Linked DNA regions of Homo sapiens: region 1 is linked to region 2. Evidence: fine-mapped QTL for protein levels in blood plasma. A gene starts in region 2. The other region holds a variant in brackets. All regions are shown on one strand. Distances are from middle to middle.

Region 1 (9,192 bases), 110 kb after region 2:
TTAACTGACAGGAGGTTGTCACTCCAATCTGCAAAGGGCTTGCCTGTGGAACCTCTGCCTCCTGATTCTCACAACAGCACCTTACAGCCAAGCCATTCAAAAATGCAGAAACAGGCTGGAGGCCTGGGCTCACTTGCCCAAGGCCAGTCTCTTAGATTGTGCAGAATTTCTCTTTGATATCATCAAGGTGTAATGCTCCATGATTCACTTCTTTTGAAACCTGGCATTGAGACAAGGGACAGGAGGGATCAGAGTTCCTTCAACTGGGTTGCGTTCCAGTAGCAAGCATCCCCCAAGGCACACAGGCCAGCCTCCCTCTGCCCCTGGGAAAGAGAGCCAGGACACCCTCTCCCTTACCCATGCAGATATGATGCTGGTTCAATGCTGGCTTCTGAGAAAGACTCCTATGTGCTCCAGGGCATGCCTGAGGTCCTGGCTGGCACAGAGCAGGTTGCACATTGCAATCCCCTGCTCATCACATTCCCAACACCCAGGCTGCATCCCAGGTATCTTCAGTCAGTACCTAGGGGTGGGCGTCAGTATTTTTCAGGGCCCTCCAGATTCCAGTATGTAGCCAAGGTGGAGAATCCTACTTCACAGATTCCTTTCTACCTGGAACCTTTTCATCAGCTTTTGAGGGAGGGAAAACACTCCTTTGCCGAGAGCAAGCTGATCAATGACCTGTGTATAGGCAGAGCAGCAAACACACGGCTTCAGGGCCAGGCAGGTACATACATGGGAAATGCTGGCTGGGTGAGAGGGAGCGTGAAGAGCTGTGGGAAGCCGAAGTGGCCCCATCAGAAGCTGTGCACAGGCACCTTGTTTTTAATGACACGGGTAGGTCAAAGCACAAACAGCTGCCAACTCATGACCTTTGTCTTAAAAGTTTAAACGGCAGGAGAACTGCTTTGGCTTTTACACATTTAACATGGTATCTTGGAGGCTCCTTAGTGCAGTAGAAAGGACATGAACTTCAAGAGTCAGGAGACACAGGGTCTTGCCTGAGCACTGCCATCAGATGGCCCCTTACCCTTCTTGAAATGTAATATGCCAGAGGTCGGCCCAGATATTCTCTGAGCACCCTTCCAGGCCTAAAACACTAGGATACTGTGAGATTAACTCCTACTTCTGGTCCTTCACTCCTGCCTGTTGGCAGCTCAGTCAGGTAATAGCACCTGGAGTTCACCCACCTGGGTGTCCCCCACTTCTGCTAATCTCCTCCTCTTGAATCCTTCTTGCTGTTCAGCTTGGAAACTAGAATTTAGGAAGAAAAGTCACTGTATGATGTAATGCACAGCTTTGGCCTTGTTTCTGCACTGTAGTGACCCAAACATCCCCGATAAAACACCCACTGCTTAAGAGGCAGGCTCGGATGGACTATAGCTTTGATACCACAGCCGAAGACCCTTGGGTTAGGATTTCTGACTGCATCAAAAACTTATTTAGCCCCATCATGAGTGAGAACCATGGCCACATGCCTCTACAGCCCAATGCCAGCCTGAATGAAGAAGAAGGGACACAGGGCCACCCAGATGGGACCCCACCAAAGCTGGACACCGCCAATGGCACTCCCAAAGTTTACAAGTCAGCAGACAGCAGCACTGTGAAGAAAGGTCCTCCTGTGGCTCCCAAGCCAGCCTGGTTTCGCCAAAGCTTGAAAGGTTTGAGGAATCGTGCTTCAGACCCAAGAGGGCTCCCTGATCCTGCCTTGTCCACCCAGCCAGCACCTGCTTCCAGGGAGCACCTAGGATCACACATCCGGGCCTCCTCCTCCTCCTCCTCCATCAGGCAGAGAATCAGCTCCTTTGAAACCTTTGGCTCCTCTCAACTGCCTGACAAAGGAGCCCAGAGACTGAGCCTCCAGCCCTCCTCTGGGGAGGCAGCAAAACCTCTTGGGAAGCATGAGGAAGGACGGTTTTCTGGACTCTTGGGGCGAGGGGCTGCACCCACTCTTGTGCCCCAGCAGCCTGAGCAAGTACTGTCCTCGGGGTCCCCTGCAGCCTCCGAGGCCAGAGACCCAGGTGTGTCTGAGTCCCCTCCCCCAGGGCGGCAGCCCAATCAGAAAACTCTCCCCCCTGGCCCGGACCCGCTCCTAAGGCTGCTGTCAACACAGGCTGAGGAATCTCAAGGCCCAGTGCTCAAGATGCCTAGCCAGCGAGCACGGAGCTTCCCCCTGACCAGGTCCCAGTCCTGTGAGACGAAGCTACTTGACGAAAAGACCAGCAAACTCTATTCTATCAGCAGCCAAGTGTCATCGGCTGTCATGAAATCCTTGCTGTGCCTTCCATCTTCTATCTCCTGTGCCCAGACTCCCTGCATCCCCAAGGAAGGGGCATCTCCAACATCATCATCCAACGAAGACTCAGCTGCAAATGGTTCTGCTGAAACATCTGCCTTGGACACAGGGTTCTCGCTCAAGTGAGTTTCTACACCCGGTGTTTCTCTTTACCTTTCTCATCTTTTTCTTTCTCATCTTTATTTTTAAAAATAATCCTATATATAATTTAAAAAATTCCCAGATATATTGATTAAAGAATTGTTCTGCCTCTTTCTTTCCATGTGTGTGCAGATGTCTGAGTGTGTGTGTGTCTGTCTGTAGGTATTACACCTCTGCCTTTCACATTAAGGAGGAGTTTTCACAACATCTGGCTTCAGGAGGGCTGGGAGGTAGGAGGTGGGACTGGCTCCCTGGTGAATTGCTCATGAGGGCTGACATACGCCTGTGGAGATTTGGAAGGTTGATGCACATCTGAAATGTCCTGCGGTTACTCAGAAAGACCAGAATGAGGCCAGGAAATTATCCATCAGGAATTCTTACTCTCCAAATGGAATCCACTTGTACTCTGCACGTGGGTTCAACTCCCTCGTCAGGGAGTTAGGATGTCTGGGTCCTAGTCTCAGCTTAGGCACTGATTCTGACTATGAGCAGGTTCTTTCCATGCTCACCCTCAGATTCCTTGTCAGTTGAAATTAGGAGATGGATGAGACCTTCTATGCAGAACCAAGAGGATGTCAGACGTGCCATAGGGTCCCTGCTGTAGGGCTGGGGCTTGGTCTTCCCTCTGATCAAAGTAGCTCTGCATTTATTAGTTTTATTTATTATTCTTACACTGCTGGGAAATATCTGTAGAGTGAAGGTATGCTAGTATCTACTCATAGATTTGTTGCATCAAATAATATGCACATAAGTGCTTGGCACCACACCTGGGACATAGTAATTATACAATCACTGTTACCTCTTTTTAATATTGTTGTTCATACTGTGTGTTGTTTCTCCTTATGAAAGCCTTTCAGAGCTGAGAGAATATACAGAGGGTCTCACGGAAGCCAAGGAAGACGATGATGGGGACCACAGTTCCCTTCAGTCTGGTCAGTCCGTTATCTCCCTGCTGAGCTCAGAAGAATTAAAAAAACTCATCGAGGAGGTGAAGGTTCTGGATGAAGCAACATTAAAGGTAGGTTTCCTTTGTAAGCATCTGCAGTAACCAATGGCTTATTATGGCTGTGTGGCCACCTTAGTTGGGCCAGAGGGGAAGTAGCTTGAGTAGCCTGCTCACATCAGACCCAGGTTGCGTCCTGTGATGGTGGGACACTGTAGCACTTGACCACAGTAAGACCTTCCATTTGAAGAGAGCCTTTTAGCTTGTGAACCACTTTCAGTAGATTGACTTCTTGCATCTTCTTTTGTCATTTTATAAATGAGAAAGGTAAGGCTCAATCAAGGTTACAGAACCTGGGTTTTCTGTCTCCAAGTTCAAGTTCAGTGCTGTTTCCACATTCCATGTGCTGCTGTCCTGGCATGTGTCTGTTGTGGGATGCTGTCCATTGTAAACAATGTGGGTTACAAGAGCTCTCACCTGGAGCTTTCATTATTTCCACTGTGCATGGAGAGGTGGCTGATCCCAGGGCTCACAAGTCCCCCACGCTTCAGTCAAGTCATTCTGAAAGTCTCACTTCCCATATGTTTTCTGAGCATGACCCAAAGGGGTGTGGGGAGGAAGTGGCCAGGCTGAGCTGGGGCCAGCAGTCAAATGAGCTCAGGCTCATGGGTCCTGCACCCTCTAGGTGCTGCCCCAGGCCTCCGTAGGCTTTTGGCACTAGAATGATCCAGGCTAGGATGAGAGGATAAGGAGGTTCTCGTTTTCCATACAAGGAGGCCTCATAGCTGCAATTTCCACATCAAGAGTGTAGGTGAGTCTGATGAGCCCAAGGTGCTGCTGTGCTGAGATTCTTTCGCTGTGGCTTTCACTTGTCACCTGGGACCATCATCCCCCAGGATCTTACTCAGTGCAAATGAAATAACAGAGGCAGAGCGTGTAAAACACAAAGAGCCATCCTGCCTGAGCTGCTCTGGGGAGAGTATTTGCTTTCTAACATGAGAAGAGCCTTCTACAAGGCAAGTAACCTGATACTTGGGTAAAAGTTGAGAGAGTTGGGCTAGTGTTGGGGCTTGGAGGTGAGGGTGCAGTGAGGTACATTCATCCTTCCATGCCTTTGGGTCTTAGGGGCTCCAAGTCTTAGGATCATAGGGACAGCTGCAAGTCAGGTGCTCTAGTGACGCTGAGCAAGTGAATTCTTTGACATAAGTTTACTCCTTAGTGCCAAGGTACAAACAGGTGCCCCAAGAACCTGTAGGTGTACTTTATTTGGTCTGCATGGTGATGAAAAAAATATTGAATTCTATACATGATAAAACCTGAATTGAAACCTGGACTTTAGGGAAGTGATCTGGTAGCGCTAGTTCTGTATGCCTACGTAGAGCTGACCCTTTGAGCAGATGTACTCGTTGGCGCTCTGCAGTTCCTATCACACATCTGCCCATTTGGCTCATTTTAGGGACCTGCCTGACTCCTATAGGCATCTGAGTTTGAGACCCCTGCTCTAGACTGGAATAGGAGTCTCTGACTGTGTCCTGGCTCCATGGGAGTCCCCGTCTAGGCTAGGAAGTACCGTAGTAAT[G/A]TGTGTGTGTGTGTGTGTGTGTGTGTGTCACACTTGCACACTGTGCATTGGGGCAGGATGTTAGCTGGGCTTCCTTAGTGCTGCTGCTGTGACCCATGGAGAAGTAGAAGGGAAGAAGGAGCAACCAATTCCTGCAGAACAGCACTGACCCCTGTTTTGTTTTTTGTTGTTTTTTTTTTTTGTTTTGTTTTACCTGAAGTCCTACAACCTGACTTCATCTCACACTGTCCAATATGCTGATTTCTGGCTGACTTCATGGCACTCCCCCTGCCCGGCTGTGGACAGGGTGAATGAGAGAGGAAAATAATTATGCTTGCTGCTTTACATACATTTTTTTTTTCTTCTAAGCTTCCCATGACTCCTGAAGGTCCATTCTTTACAGATGAGGAAACTGAGGTTTGAGGAGGTGATGTAACTTGGAGGCTGGCCAAGCTGGGGTTTGAGATAACAAATCAGTCTGATGTCAGTCCGATGTTAAATTGTTCATCCTCTTGCAGTAAAATGTTTTTGAATGTATGTATTTCCTCTGCAGCAATTAGACGGCATCCATGTCACCATCTTACACAAGGAGGAAGGTGCTGGTCTTGGGTTCAGCTTGGCAGGAGGAGCAGATCTAGAAAACAAGGTGATTACGGTGAGTGGCCAAGTGAAGGGGCATGTCACAGCCAGAGGCAATGGTTCTGGGGGAGGGGGACACACTTGCCAGGAAGGGGCCCTGTGCTGGGGAAATGAAGAATGCATGACACTAGGCCACTGGGCAGGTCCTGTCCACTCAGCACATCCCAGAGCCTGGGGCTGCGTGGAGAGGGTAGCAGGCCTGGCCATGGGCATCTTTTCCTGTGGGTCCCACTATTCTGGCTCATCCAATCTGATCAGCATTGGCTGCTGCCTTCAGGTCACCTGTACCTGACCCAGATGGTTTCTGGTTCTGCCAGTTTTGTGGAGCCATGCTGCGGCTGCTCGCTCTCTAAAGCCGAGTGCATTGCTGTCATCCCAGGGCTGTGTTGTCTCAGGGTATCCTTTGTGTAGGCTGTGCTGGGCTCATTTGAATTTCCATGCCCAACTGAAAACAAATCCTCCAGTTCACAGCATCAGCCAGCATTCAACATACCACACCCCCTTGCAGTGGCAATCTGGCATGTTCCTGCGTGTCACTTCAGAGTCAATCATGTCAGTGGTGACTTCCTTGATTTCCTGATAAGTTTTCTATCACATAAAAAACACTTAAAACCTGTAAGTCTCTATTTCTCTCACTGAGTGCAGCTGAGTATTACAAAAAGATTCCTGACCGTGTAGTTTACTTTCTACTTGAAGAGGAGGAAAGAGAGCTTGCCTGTGGGAATGGCACTTTGGGTATTTTTCTCTGTCCATGAGTAGCAACTTCTGTCCACGTCATCTGGCCAGTCACCCTTGAGACACTGCAGACAACAGGAAACTAGGAGGAAGGCGCACATGTTGGCTGAGCACATGCACAAAAGCTTCTTTCTCCTTCTGTGTTTGAGCATTTCTCTTCCTTTCCAGATGATTAAAAGGGAACTAACGTAGAGCACCATCCACGGCCATGCTGAGCACTCACTGACCTGTTGTCTAAATTCATCCTACCCACACTTTGGATTGATAAATTGGTGGCATTTATGCTTCTTTTATAGAGGAGGAACCTGAGGTTCCTCCTTTAATTAACTTTAATCTTCGTTGGCCTAAAAATCCTCTAGCATTGAGGAACCTGAGGCTCAGAGGAGAGGTTCTGCTTCATGCTTGGATGTTACAGCCTGGGGATTCTAACCATGTAACAGAATTTTTCTAACACCAAAACAATTTAGAGAAGCAAAGAGCTTTGCTCCTATCATAAAAGCAAAACTACAGGTACCACATTTTAGTGGTTTCCATGCATGCTATCACTCAGTCCTCTTAATTATAATGGACCTCATTAAAGAGGCTGAGGCAGAGACATGAGATATTTTTGTGTGTTTGTTTATCCCACATATCTTGCAGAAAGGGGACCAAGAGGTGACTGGAGGTAAAGAGTCAGAATTTCTAGGGGAGGAGCTATAAAAATGTCTAGACTGCCTAGGAGAGTGTTTCTCAAAATGCATTCTGCCAAATGAGACCGAGAATTTCTCTATGAGAAAAGAATTCTTTGTTGAAACACTTTGGGAATCCCCATAATACCCTGCCAATACTTAGAAATCTGCCATGCAGATTTGCATTGTAGACCCTCTAAATGCCTTTTGCTTAGAAATCTGCTGCCATGCAAATTTGCATTGTAGACCCTCTAATGCCTTTTGCTTTTTAAAAGTAGACAATGTCAGAGCTTTTGTTTCACCCAGTATTCCTCAAGTTTCTTTGATTTTAAAAAATTTTTCTTGGCCGGGTGTGGTGGCTCATACCTGTAATTCCAACACTGTGCGGGGCCAAGGTGAGAGGATTGCTTGAGCCCAGGAGTTTGAGACCATCCTGGGCAACACTGGGAGACCCTGTCTCTATTTTTTAAAAAATAATAGGAAAAGCCTTTTTCTTACACAATACCCGTTAATATGCCATAGAATCAGTGCCTTGAGAAAACTACTCTGGGGACTTCTGACCTAGGGCAGGTGAAGCAAAAGATTTTATATGGAATCCCAACTAGAATCGTGGTGGTACACTATAGGACGTTGTGTTGGGATGGATTCTGAGGGCTTACCTGGTCATTACTGCTGGTGATCTCTGCTCTGGATGGAGAAGGAGGGAATGCTGGCCTCTGTGCCAGCAGCTCCAATCTAGGACACAATTATCTTTAATCTTTGTTGGCCTAAAAATCCTCTAGCATTGACTAACCGGTTCAATCCTCCTCCAGCAAGTATGTGGACTGGACTTGTGTGATTTCTGGTCCTGACTTCCTTTGGTTTGCTCAGGTTCACAGAGTGTTTCCAAATGGGCTGGCCTCCCAGGAAGGGACTATTCAGAAGGGCAATGAGGTTCTTTCCATCAACGGCAAGTCTCTCAAGGGGACCACGCACCATGATGCCTTGGCCATCCTCCGCCAAGCTCGAGAGCCCAGGCAAGCTGTGATTGTCACAAGGAAGCTGACTCCAGAGGCCATGCCCGACCTCAACTCCTCCACTGACTCTGCAGCCTCAGCCTCTGCAGCCAGTGATGTTTCTGTAGAATCTAGTAAGTTCTCCCAACTCAGTGGAAGCCACATGGGCCACATCCTCTTTGGCCATTTGGGGCCAGACCTGATGGGGCTACTCAGTAATTTGTGACCCCAAGAATGTGTGGCTGCCTAGTACACTGCCTGAGACGTGTTTACATGTGCCTGTGTGCAAACACGGGGGCTGTATCACCCCGGGCTCACTTGAAGCCCAGGGCATCTGTGGCCTGGGAGAGGAGAGGATCCCTAACAGAGACCTTGTGTTTTTCTCAGCAGCAGAGGCCACAGTCTGCACGGTGACACTGGAGAAGATGTCGGCAGGGCTGGGCTTCAGCCTGGAAGGAGGGAAGGGCTCCCTACACGGAGACAAGCCTCTCACCATTAACAGGATTTTCAAAGGTGTGGGGTGTGTCTGGTTCTTTGCGTGCTCTCCAGTTGTGGGCATGTGGCCAGGCCCCCAAAAGGCTTCTGGGCACTTTCTGGGCTATGTTGTTTCCCACAACTCCATGTCCTCTTCATAGGCATGCTGGTCCTTTTAGGGCTCAATTCTGCTTTTTCTACTTTTTCTCCTTTGCTCAGACATCCCCTCAATCCCCCCTCTGTTTTGATGGGTCTTCAAAAATACCTAAGTCCTGGGCTTGGTTCGGGTTGGCAGGGCCAGGACTCTAGAGTGGGGCAGTGAGGCACTGGCCTGTGGGGCAGAATTTTAAAGGGGTGCCAAAACACTCAGTAACTCAGATCGATACTATTTTAATGCAGCGTGTTTTTTAAAATTAATTTTAAAAAAACATGTTGGACAAAATATCCAAGTTTAAATCAAGACAGAGTCTGACTTTGTACTGCACACTTGGCCTCATTTGCCTTACCCTAGTCCTGGACACGTCAGCTCCTGCCTTTATTTAAAATGTTGATAGATATTTTGTTCATCAGGGATTGGAGTACAAACCAGTCTGATATGGGGGTCACTTGGATTTCCCTGTGAAAATCATGAATGACTGTGGCTACCATGTAAAACCATCCCTGATTCTTTGGTGTTCCTCAAATTGGAGGTCTCCAAGCCACAGAGCAAGGGGTTGTAGAGAGAGGAGTACTGGACAGGGAGG
Region 2 (8,996 bases):
GTTGTTTTACTCCCTGTGATGTCTCTTCCTCCCTTTCTTATAAGAAAAAGGGGAAATCATTATGGTACCAACCCTCCAAGTGAATTGTGGAGCTGGATACTGTGTGGATGGTACTTAGCCTTGTGTCTAGCTGTTCCATGGTGAGCAGGCCTATGCAAACCTACCCCCAAAGGCTGAGGAAGTTGAGGGGCCAAAGAAAGAAGCTGAAAAATCCAGTTTCTTAGAAAGAAATGTTGAATAGGGACTTATGTCCAGAAGCCATGTCTGTGTCTAGGACGGCGAGACAAGATGGTGAATCCCCACAATTACACCCCAGACCCAGGGTTTATATATCATAGGAGAAGGGTACAGTGCTTCAGAAGGAATGGGTAGGGTGATTGCTCAAGGTCAGGATTTATGGTAAGTACAATAACATCAAGATTGTTTTGACCTAAGGGTAGGATAAGTACATGCTCTTATACAAGGAACAGTAGATAGACTAGAAACCTTACGAGACTTTCCTGGAACTGGAGTTAATCAGAATCCAACATGGGGGATTAGCACCCAAGATGGAGTTGCCTCAGCCTCCACACTGGCCCACAGCAAGTGCTGCACAAATGCTTGTTGTTGCTGTTATTAATCAGCCAAGGTTCTATATCTCTGAGTACTTTTTATTTGTTTTAGAGCCATGAATTAAACCAAGTGATTCTTCTTGTCATAACCGGAGGGTCATGAATGCTCTTGGAACTAAACTCTCTTCCCTTGGAGAGAACATTCTGTTTCCTAATCTGTGGCTTCTAGGAGCTAAGAGAGATACTGTGAATATGTTTTTTAAGTTCCATTTAAACCTGGGCCTAATCACATAAATTACGCTAAGGAAATGTCTGGAAGAGCTCTTTGTAAACTGAAAACTACAAACAAATGTAGAAACTCATTACATGGCATTAGTCATTTATTCATTCATTTATGCATTGATTCACTCAGTAAATGTTTATCAACCCTTTATGGGCCAGGCATGCTCTAGTGCTGGGGACCCCACAGTGAACAGGCTGATGAGGTCCCTGTGTGGGACCTAGATGGGGCGGATGGGTGGTATGTAAGTACCCAAGCAGACTAACAAGACAGCTTCAAATGCTGGCAAGTTCTATGAAGAAAATAAAATAAGGAGAGGTAACGGTGAGTGCCTGGTTTAGGTTGAGTGGTCAAGAAAGATCCCACTTAGGAGATGGAGTCAGGGAAGAGCCAGCCATATGAAGATCTGGAAGTGGAACTTTCCTGTAAGAGAAAACAGCTAGGGCAGAAGTCTTAGGGTGACAAGGGCATGGCTTATTCAAGAAAGAGCCAGAAGGCCAGGGTGGCTGTGGGATGCAGCGAGCAGGAGAGGCAGAGGTGGAAGCTGGAGTTTGGGAGATAAACAAGGGTGAGATCATTTAGCTCCTTTGGGACACTGTAAGGAATTTGGGTATTATTTTGGAAAACAACGCAAAGCCTTTGGAAGGGGTGGAGCACAGGGCATTTTTGGGGCAGTAAATATATCTCTCTGTCTGATACTACAGTGGTAGATCCATAACGCTATGCACTTGTCAGAACCCATAGAACTGCACAACACAATGGGTGAACCATCACGTAAGCCATGAACTTTAGCTAATAATCATGTATCAGTATTGATTTATCAATTGTAAAAAGGTACCACGCCAATGCAAGATGTTAATAGTATGGGAAATTGTGTGTGTGGAGAGGGAGATCAGTATTCGGGAGTTCTGTACTTTCTATGCAATATTTCTGTAAAGCTAAAACTGCTCAGAACAATAAAGTTTATTAAATTTTTAAAAAAGTGGTTGGGTGCAGTGGCTCATGCCTATAATCCCAGCACTTTGGGAGGCCAAGGAAGGAGGACTGCTTGAGGCCAGGAGTTCAAGACCAGCCTGGGCAACACAGAGAGACCGTGTCTCTACAAAAAAAAAGAAAAAAGAAAAAATAGCCAAATGTGGTGGCATGTGCTTGTTGTCCTAGCTACTCGGGAGGCTGAGGCTGGAGGATTGCTTGAGCCAGGAGTTTAAGGCTGCAGTTAGCTATGATCATACCACTACCCTGCAGCCTGGGCCACAGAGCAAGATGCTGTCTCAAAAACAAACAAACAAACAAAAAACAGTTTTTAAAAGTAATTCAAAGCCCTTGCAAATTTTATGCTGATCCAATTTATATTTTCAAAAAGCCTACCTGCTATTATGTGAAAAATGGATTATGAAGGTCTGCATAGGAACCAGAATCCCAGTTAGAAGGTGAAAGCTATAATCAGACAAGAGGCACTGGTAAGAGGAGGGTGGCGGCAGTGAAGATGGAGAGAAGCGGAAAGAAAGTGGGATAGCTTCTGGGGATAGAGCCAACGAGAATCACTGATAAATTGGATGTGATGTGGAAGGTTAGAGAGATGGAGGGATCAAGATGAATAAAAACTCACAGAGGGCTTATTCTGGCAGGCACTGTTCTAAGAACCTTACAAGTATTACCATATTTAGCCCAAACAAACCTTGTGAGGTGGATGTTAGTGCACTAGCCAGCCTATAGATGACAAAACCAGTCCACAGAGAAGTGCCTTTTTGCCTGCCTATGATCATGCACTTGGGCAGGGACAGACCTGCGAGATGAACCCAGGAATTTTGGCTTCAGAGCCTGTGCTATGTTCTTCCCACCTTGATACTGAGGATTTTGGCTTGGGAAATTGATGGATGCTAGTGACAATTACCAAAATGTGGAAGTTTAGGGAAGAAACATTTTATTAGGGGGGGAATCAAGAGTACTGTTGGCAGTGTTCCTTTTTTTTGCCTCACTGAATAACAGCCAGGCAATGTTACTTTTGAAATTTAAGTTAAACCCCAGCTGAAGATGTTAAGCAAGTGGTAGGAAAAAAGAGTCAGAATTCAAGGAGAAGTCCAGGCCTGGAGAAGTGAATTTGGGAGTTGTTGGCATGTGCGTGGTATATTTGCTTGTGGACTGGCTTCAGTTGCTTGTCGTGATTGTAAGTATCTTAGTGATGGAATATTACTTTGAAAGGATGCAAGCCTGATGGACAGTTTGAAAGAAAAAAAGGCCAGAGAGAGGGCAGCATGGTCTACATGGAAGTCAGCTAGAATTTTCGTATGAAGTTAAAACCCTTGGTTTGAATCTATATGTTGCTGTGGGCCAGGGAAAGAGGGGAAGAGAGCCGGGGAGCGGGAATCAAGGGACCAATGGCTTCTGACTGCACAGCCTTGGACGTGCACTTTTTGGACATGTAACTTCTCTGAGTCTCAGTGTTTGCATCCGTAAGTGGGGACGTACAATAAAATCATCAAGTTTTGGCCTCAACATTCTGTCTAAGTTGAAAGTGCTAAATGCAGAGAGAATTTATTATCATCATGTCCATTACTGTCAGGTTACATTACTAGTAACATTACATTACTAGTTAAAATTGTTACATTACTAGTTAAAATTGTTAAATTATATTCTGCGTCATGTTACATTACTAGTTAAAATTGTTACATTACTAGTTAAAATTGTTAAATTATATTCTGCTCATGATAATACAGTTCGCATGACCAAAAGTGTACAGCATAAAGAATTCCCAAGGCATTTTATAGATTGCAGGACAGCTCTTTGCTCAGACCTCTGAGCAGCCCTGTCAGATTATTGGGTTATTGTTTCCATTTTGTGGACATGGAAACTGAGACTCAGTAAGGTAAAAGGACTTGCAGTTGACAGAGCCGCTTAGTACAGAAGCTGGGGCTTATTGCTCTGACCCTAAGCTCTTTATTTTGCCATTGTTTGAACAGAATAGGAGATGACCCTGTTGTGTCATTTTAAGGACACACTTTCTTTTTGCCTTCTGAATATGTTTACTTGCCACAACAAACATGTATTACTTTTATAACTAAAATTTTGAAATTAAAAATTTTTGTAATTTTAATTTTTTAAATTAAATTTAAATTTGTAATTGTAATTTTAATTTTTAAAAATTAAATTAGAATTTTTAAAATTAAAATTTTTTAAATTAATTTTTCAAAATTTATAATTTTAATTTTGTAATTAAAATTTTTGTAATTAAAAATTTACTTTTGGAAATAAAATTTTGTAATTAAAAAATAGGAGAATTAGAAGGAAATACAGGTTATTGATTATGAAACTTTAGCAAGCATCAGAATCACTTGTTGAACAGATTTCTCAGTTCCGTGGGCTGGAAGGGCCAAAAAGGTGAGCAGGCTTCTGCTTGGTTAGCTGTTGGCAGCATGCTTCCTCCTCTATTGCCTCATTCTCTCAGTAACACTGTGCAGTAGAAGTTTCTAATTTCATCTGGCAGACAATTAATTTCATCTAATTTTCATCGTAGCAAACTAAGGCTGTGAATGACCAAGATCACACAGGAAGCTCTTGGTTGAGCTTCAAGTGGTGCTTGAACTTCCTAGTTCTAACCAGGGCGGGGCTCTCTCACCTGCGTCTTCCTCCCCGTCTCTTCTGGCTTGCAGTGAGCTGGACTATGGAGTGTTGGGCAGGGTGGAGACTCTTTCTGCAGGATGTCCTGAAGGGCAGAGGGGTGATAAAATTTCCACCTTGAAGCACAAACCACCCCGTATTAGGAAAAATCAGGGCCAAGTCTCAACTACACTTTGGAATAAATTTACCTTCTGAGAGTGAGAAAGAACAGATCTTCGGAAAATAGAGGGAGAGGCGGGAACTGGATTCAGGTGCCGATGACAAGAGAGAGCTTAGACTTAGTGGAGGAGGGGGGCTGTGGGGCCCTCCCAGGCCTCAGGATCCAAGAAGGGCAAGGCCAGCCCCCATAGCCCTGGGGTGCTGAATTGCTCCTCAGCCTCTCTGCCAGAGCAAGATGGAAGTGGGGCCTGAGTCTGTCCTGGCCCCACCGCACCCAGGCCATTGTGAGAGAGATTGTGGGTGTGAGCTGAGCAGGCGACACTGACAGAGGCGCTCACTCTCTGCAATTTAGAAATTCCTTCACTGCACTCCAGACTCACTCCAGACTCAGCCCTACAATGTCCCCTGTGCCTGCTGACAAAGGCAGCTTTATCCCCAGAGTGCTCCCTCCTCCCGTGCTTCCCTTGGGACCGTGGGCCTGTGTTCTCCAGCAGCAGCGGCTAGATCTTTGCAGCCTTGCATGGAATTTCAAGGGCTTCCTACAGGTTGCACCTACACCCTCATTAAAGCCCCCAGGAAGCCCTGAAACATTTGGTGCTGAGCGTTGGGAAACATTCCATTCTTTAGAAGAGAGGTCCATACAAAAACCTCAGCCTAGCATGTACACAGGGCTCACAGAGACTGAGCTTAGGAGAGATGTGTGGGATGCTCTTTGCGGGGCAGATGGATTAAATGCCACCTTATGATTAGATTCTCCAAGGGGCTACGTGGGGGAAAGGCACTCTGGTCTCATGACACTAATGCCAACAGGACACACACAAAAGTGCCCCATTCTTTTATGCTGCAGTTTTCAACATGCTCTGTATACGTTAGGTCATGGGCTCTCGCACCTGAGCACGCACCAAAATCACCTGGAGGCTTTGTGAAAACAGAGTGCCAGAGGTGCTGCTTCAGGAGGTCTAGGCCAGGGCCTGAGAACTTGCATTTCTAGCAGATGCTGCTGATGCAGCTGGCTTGAGGACCACTGAGTTACATAAGCTTCTGAGAGCCAGTCTGTTGTTTTTGGGAAAGGGTGGCACAGACAAGAAATGAAATGCTATGGAAAAAGCCTGGGCTTTGGAGACAGGTGGATTTTGACTTGCTAACTTGCTAACTGTGTGACCTTGGGGAAATTCCACGGCACGTAGTAGGTGTTTAATGAACGTTTGTGCAGTGGCTTTCTTTGTCTGCAAAGCAGGTGATATATTTACCAGATTGATGGCAGGATTGTATGTGATGACTTTTTTCCTCTTTTTATTAAATTTTTATATAATTTGAGAGGAGTTCTTGCTATGGTTTGCCCGGGCTTGTCTTGAATCCCCCGGCTCAAGTGATCCTTCTGCCTCAGCCTCCTGAGTAGCTGGGATTATAGGCACGTGCCACAGCTTCCAGCATGTGATGAGGTTTATAGAAAGCTCCTAGCAGCGTGCCAGGCACATTGCAGGCACCGAGTCATGTCTGCTACCTTTCGGCTCTCCTAGTCATTTCTGTGTTGTCCAAAGAAGGCAGGGGCAACTGGGCTGGACCAAGGAACCTCACTGTGGTTCTGTGGCTCTGCACTGGGTTTGCCTCCTGGGTGTTGCCGGCCAGCCCAGCAGATGGTGGACCTTGTTCTGAGGCTGAGCTTCTCAGCACTGGCAGCCCCCCTTTTTGGATCAAGCCTTTTCACGTGGAGCAGTCAGATGGCTCAGATCAGGAGTCTTCGAGCAAATCCATGCCAGGTGGGACACATTTGTCCTGAGTCACCTGTCCAGAGCAGGTGGTGAATATTGTGTCCTACTCACGGCATCTCAACTATCGGAGCCTGGGATCTGACTCAAAGGCCGGCCTCCGTCTGAGAACTGAGCGTCCATTTCTCAATCCTTGCCGGCTCTGACCCAGGCCTGGGCCACAGGCTGTCCGGGAATAAGTGGTGCTGCAATCCCTGCTGGGCAGATGGAGAGAGGAGCAAGGGAGATGGCAGCCCCGGGGGACTGTGCATAGGGAGGTAGGTGGGCACCAGGTGAGTGAATGTCTGTCAGGCAGCTGCTCTGTCCAGGTGGCCGTTACCGGAGGGAGGAAGCTGGCCTCTCTGACCTGAATGGGGAGGGTCTTGGTTGCTAGGACGTAACTTCATATTTGGAAGTGGTGCTGGGGTCAGGGGCAGGAGCAGAAGCCAGGATTGTGTTGGTAGGAATCTCTGTGTCACCATGTCACAGTTAGGTACAGGAGGAAGCAGCTTCAGAAGGCCAGAGCGGGCAGAGGGATATCGCTTGACCTGGCTCTGCAGCACGGGGAGAATTTGGTCCTGAGATTTCTGACTTTTCAGCCTCGTCTCATCCTTGGCAATGGGGTGTGGAAGGAGGTGGAGGAAAGGAAGGCAGCAGGAGAGAGAAAGGCCACGGGGCACCTGATGGGGGCTTCTCTGCTGCCTGGCCAGACTCCTTTTCTCCAAAGTGGGCACAGCGGGTGGGCATCTCTGCAGATTGACCATGGGAAAAGTGTTCACTCTGCTTGCTTTTTGATAAGGGTCCCGTGACTAATTCCTGCATTGGTAGGTCCCAGGATTGGTGTTTTTTTGTTTTTGTTTTTTGTTTGTTTGTTTTTTTCTTTTTTGGTCCATAGCAAGTTTGCTTTCTGTAGCTGGAGAATGAGGTAACAGCATAAGAATAGAGGTTCCCTGTGGAATACAGGGAAGCATCTTCTCCTCCTGCCCTTATCAGGTGAAATCCTCCCACTTCAGGCTGAGCCATACAAAGACGACCCCTTTGTCCCAGGAGGCCAGTTCAAGCTCCCACTGGGTTCCTGGAAGCAGCCTGGGAGCTGCCGTCTCTGTGGCTCCCCTTCCTATTTCTCCAGTTTCCCCCGGAAGGAGAAGACCGTTCAGCCTTTTTCCTCCTCTGTTCTCCTTCTTTACCCTGAAGTTAAGTGATGGTCAACATTTACGAGCACAGTAGAAGGCACCTCCCCTGCTGCAGATATGACGTGGGCATGAGCCGTCAGGTGGGTCAGACCCTTGAAGCCTCTACTGCTCATTTATTCAATCCCCAGTGAGTCTTTTAAATAAAACTTAGTACCCCAACCATTTCCTGGCCACTCTTCAAGCCCCAGGCACCAAGCTAAAATATTCACATACCTCATTTAATTTAAACCTTACAACAACCTGGAGCTTAGGGAGTATATCCCCAAACCGAGAGGTGAGGAGGCTTGCACAGGACCACTCAGCTAGACGTTCCCAGGACCCAAACCCAGCTTGACTCCAAAATCCATGCTCTCACTGGCTTTGTGGCATGCCTCAATAAATACTTGAGTTTCCTCAACACAAAGATGGTCATATATCCATAGGGTTAAAAAATAATCTCTGTTGGATGCAATTGACTATAGAATTATTATTTTCTAATTGTTTGTATTCATGGAAACCTTTTTAGAATTAAAATCTATCATGAAAACTCATGTATAATCAGTTAAGGCAGAATTATTTTGGCAGAGGCAGACCAGGACCTTGAGACCTGCCCTTTTGTCAACCCCTCCCCCTTTCTGGTTCCCAGCAGTGGCCCAGGGGTATAGGAGTGAGAGGGAGGGAGGTACACTTTGAATTGAAATCTACTGGCCAGGTACAGTGGCTCACGCCTGTAATCCCAGCAATTTGAGAGGCCGAGGCGGGCGGATCACTTGAGGTCAGGAGTTCCTGACCAGGCTGGCCAACATGGTGAAACCCTGTTTCTACTAAAAATACAAAAATTAGCCAGGCGTGGAGGCACATGCCTGTAATCCCAGCTACTCAAGAGGCTGAGGCAGGAGAATTGCTTGAACCCGGGAGGCGGAGACTGCAGTGAGCCGAGATCATGCCACTGCACTCCAGCCTGGGTGACAGAGGGAGACTCCATCTCAAAAAAAAAAAATATATATATATATATATATATATATATATAAAATACATATTTTTTATTGTGCATTTGAATTGGTAATACATTTTCATATATAGGTTACGTTTTGCTATTAAAAAGCAATTCATTGTGAATAGCAATATGCTCATAAACACGGGGAGAAAATAGGCATGGGGCAAAATAAACAAATAGTTCCAAGAACTTGGAGTTGTGGTTAACTAGGAAGGCAGCTTGAAATCAGGAATTTACTTCAAGTTCTTCTTTTGAATTCCTGTTGAAATAAGGACGAATCTATGTCAGTCTTGTAAACTAGACAGTGTTGCTCAGTGTGTGCCAGAAACACTGAGAAGTCTCAGTGGATGTCTCAGGTGGATGTGAAGGACGTTGGGTGGAAGGGCGGAGCCCATCAGGAGGGAGGCGCTGTTCTTGCCACATCTGGAGATGCTGGAGGAGAGGTTTGCTTTGAGTGGGAGCAACTGGTAA

Evidence for each region. PIP is the chance, under the fine-mapping model, that this variant and not a neighbour inherited with it causes the effect. Protein levels are from antibody-based Olink assays in UK Biobank. Linkage for the fine-mapping came from a reference panel and not from the study's own genotypes, which makes the PIPs less certain.
Region 1: its variant is fine-mapped to the plasma level of the IL16 protein (UK Biobank, PIP above 0.99).

Annotation. Positions count from the first base shown.
Region 1 is chr15:81,298,058-81,307,249 of GRCh38, forward strand. IL16 (interleukin 16) reads left to right here. Exons shown (of 19, transcript NM_172217.5): 14 at 1,323-2,418; 15 at 3,287-3,455; 16 at 5,492-5,593; 17 at 7,851-8,109; 18 at 8,363-8,488. Among named protein-coding and RNA genes, the nearest start is that of STARD5, 21 kb to the right of the region's middle. RefSeq lists enhancers at 411-460, 634-683, 3,749-3,838, 5,180-6,379, 5,764-6,294. The variant G/A (reference allele first, on the strand shown) is at 4,960.
Region 2 is chr15:81,190,504-81,199,499 of GRCh38, forward strand. It overlaps IL16 (interleukin 16), which reads left to right and starts at 6,376. Exons shown (of 19, transcript NM_172217.5): 1 at 6,376-6,649. RefSeq lists an enhancer at 1-229.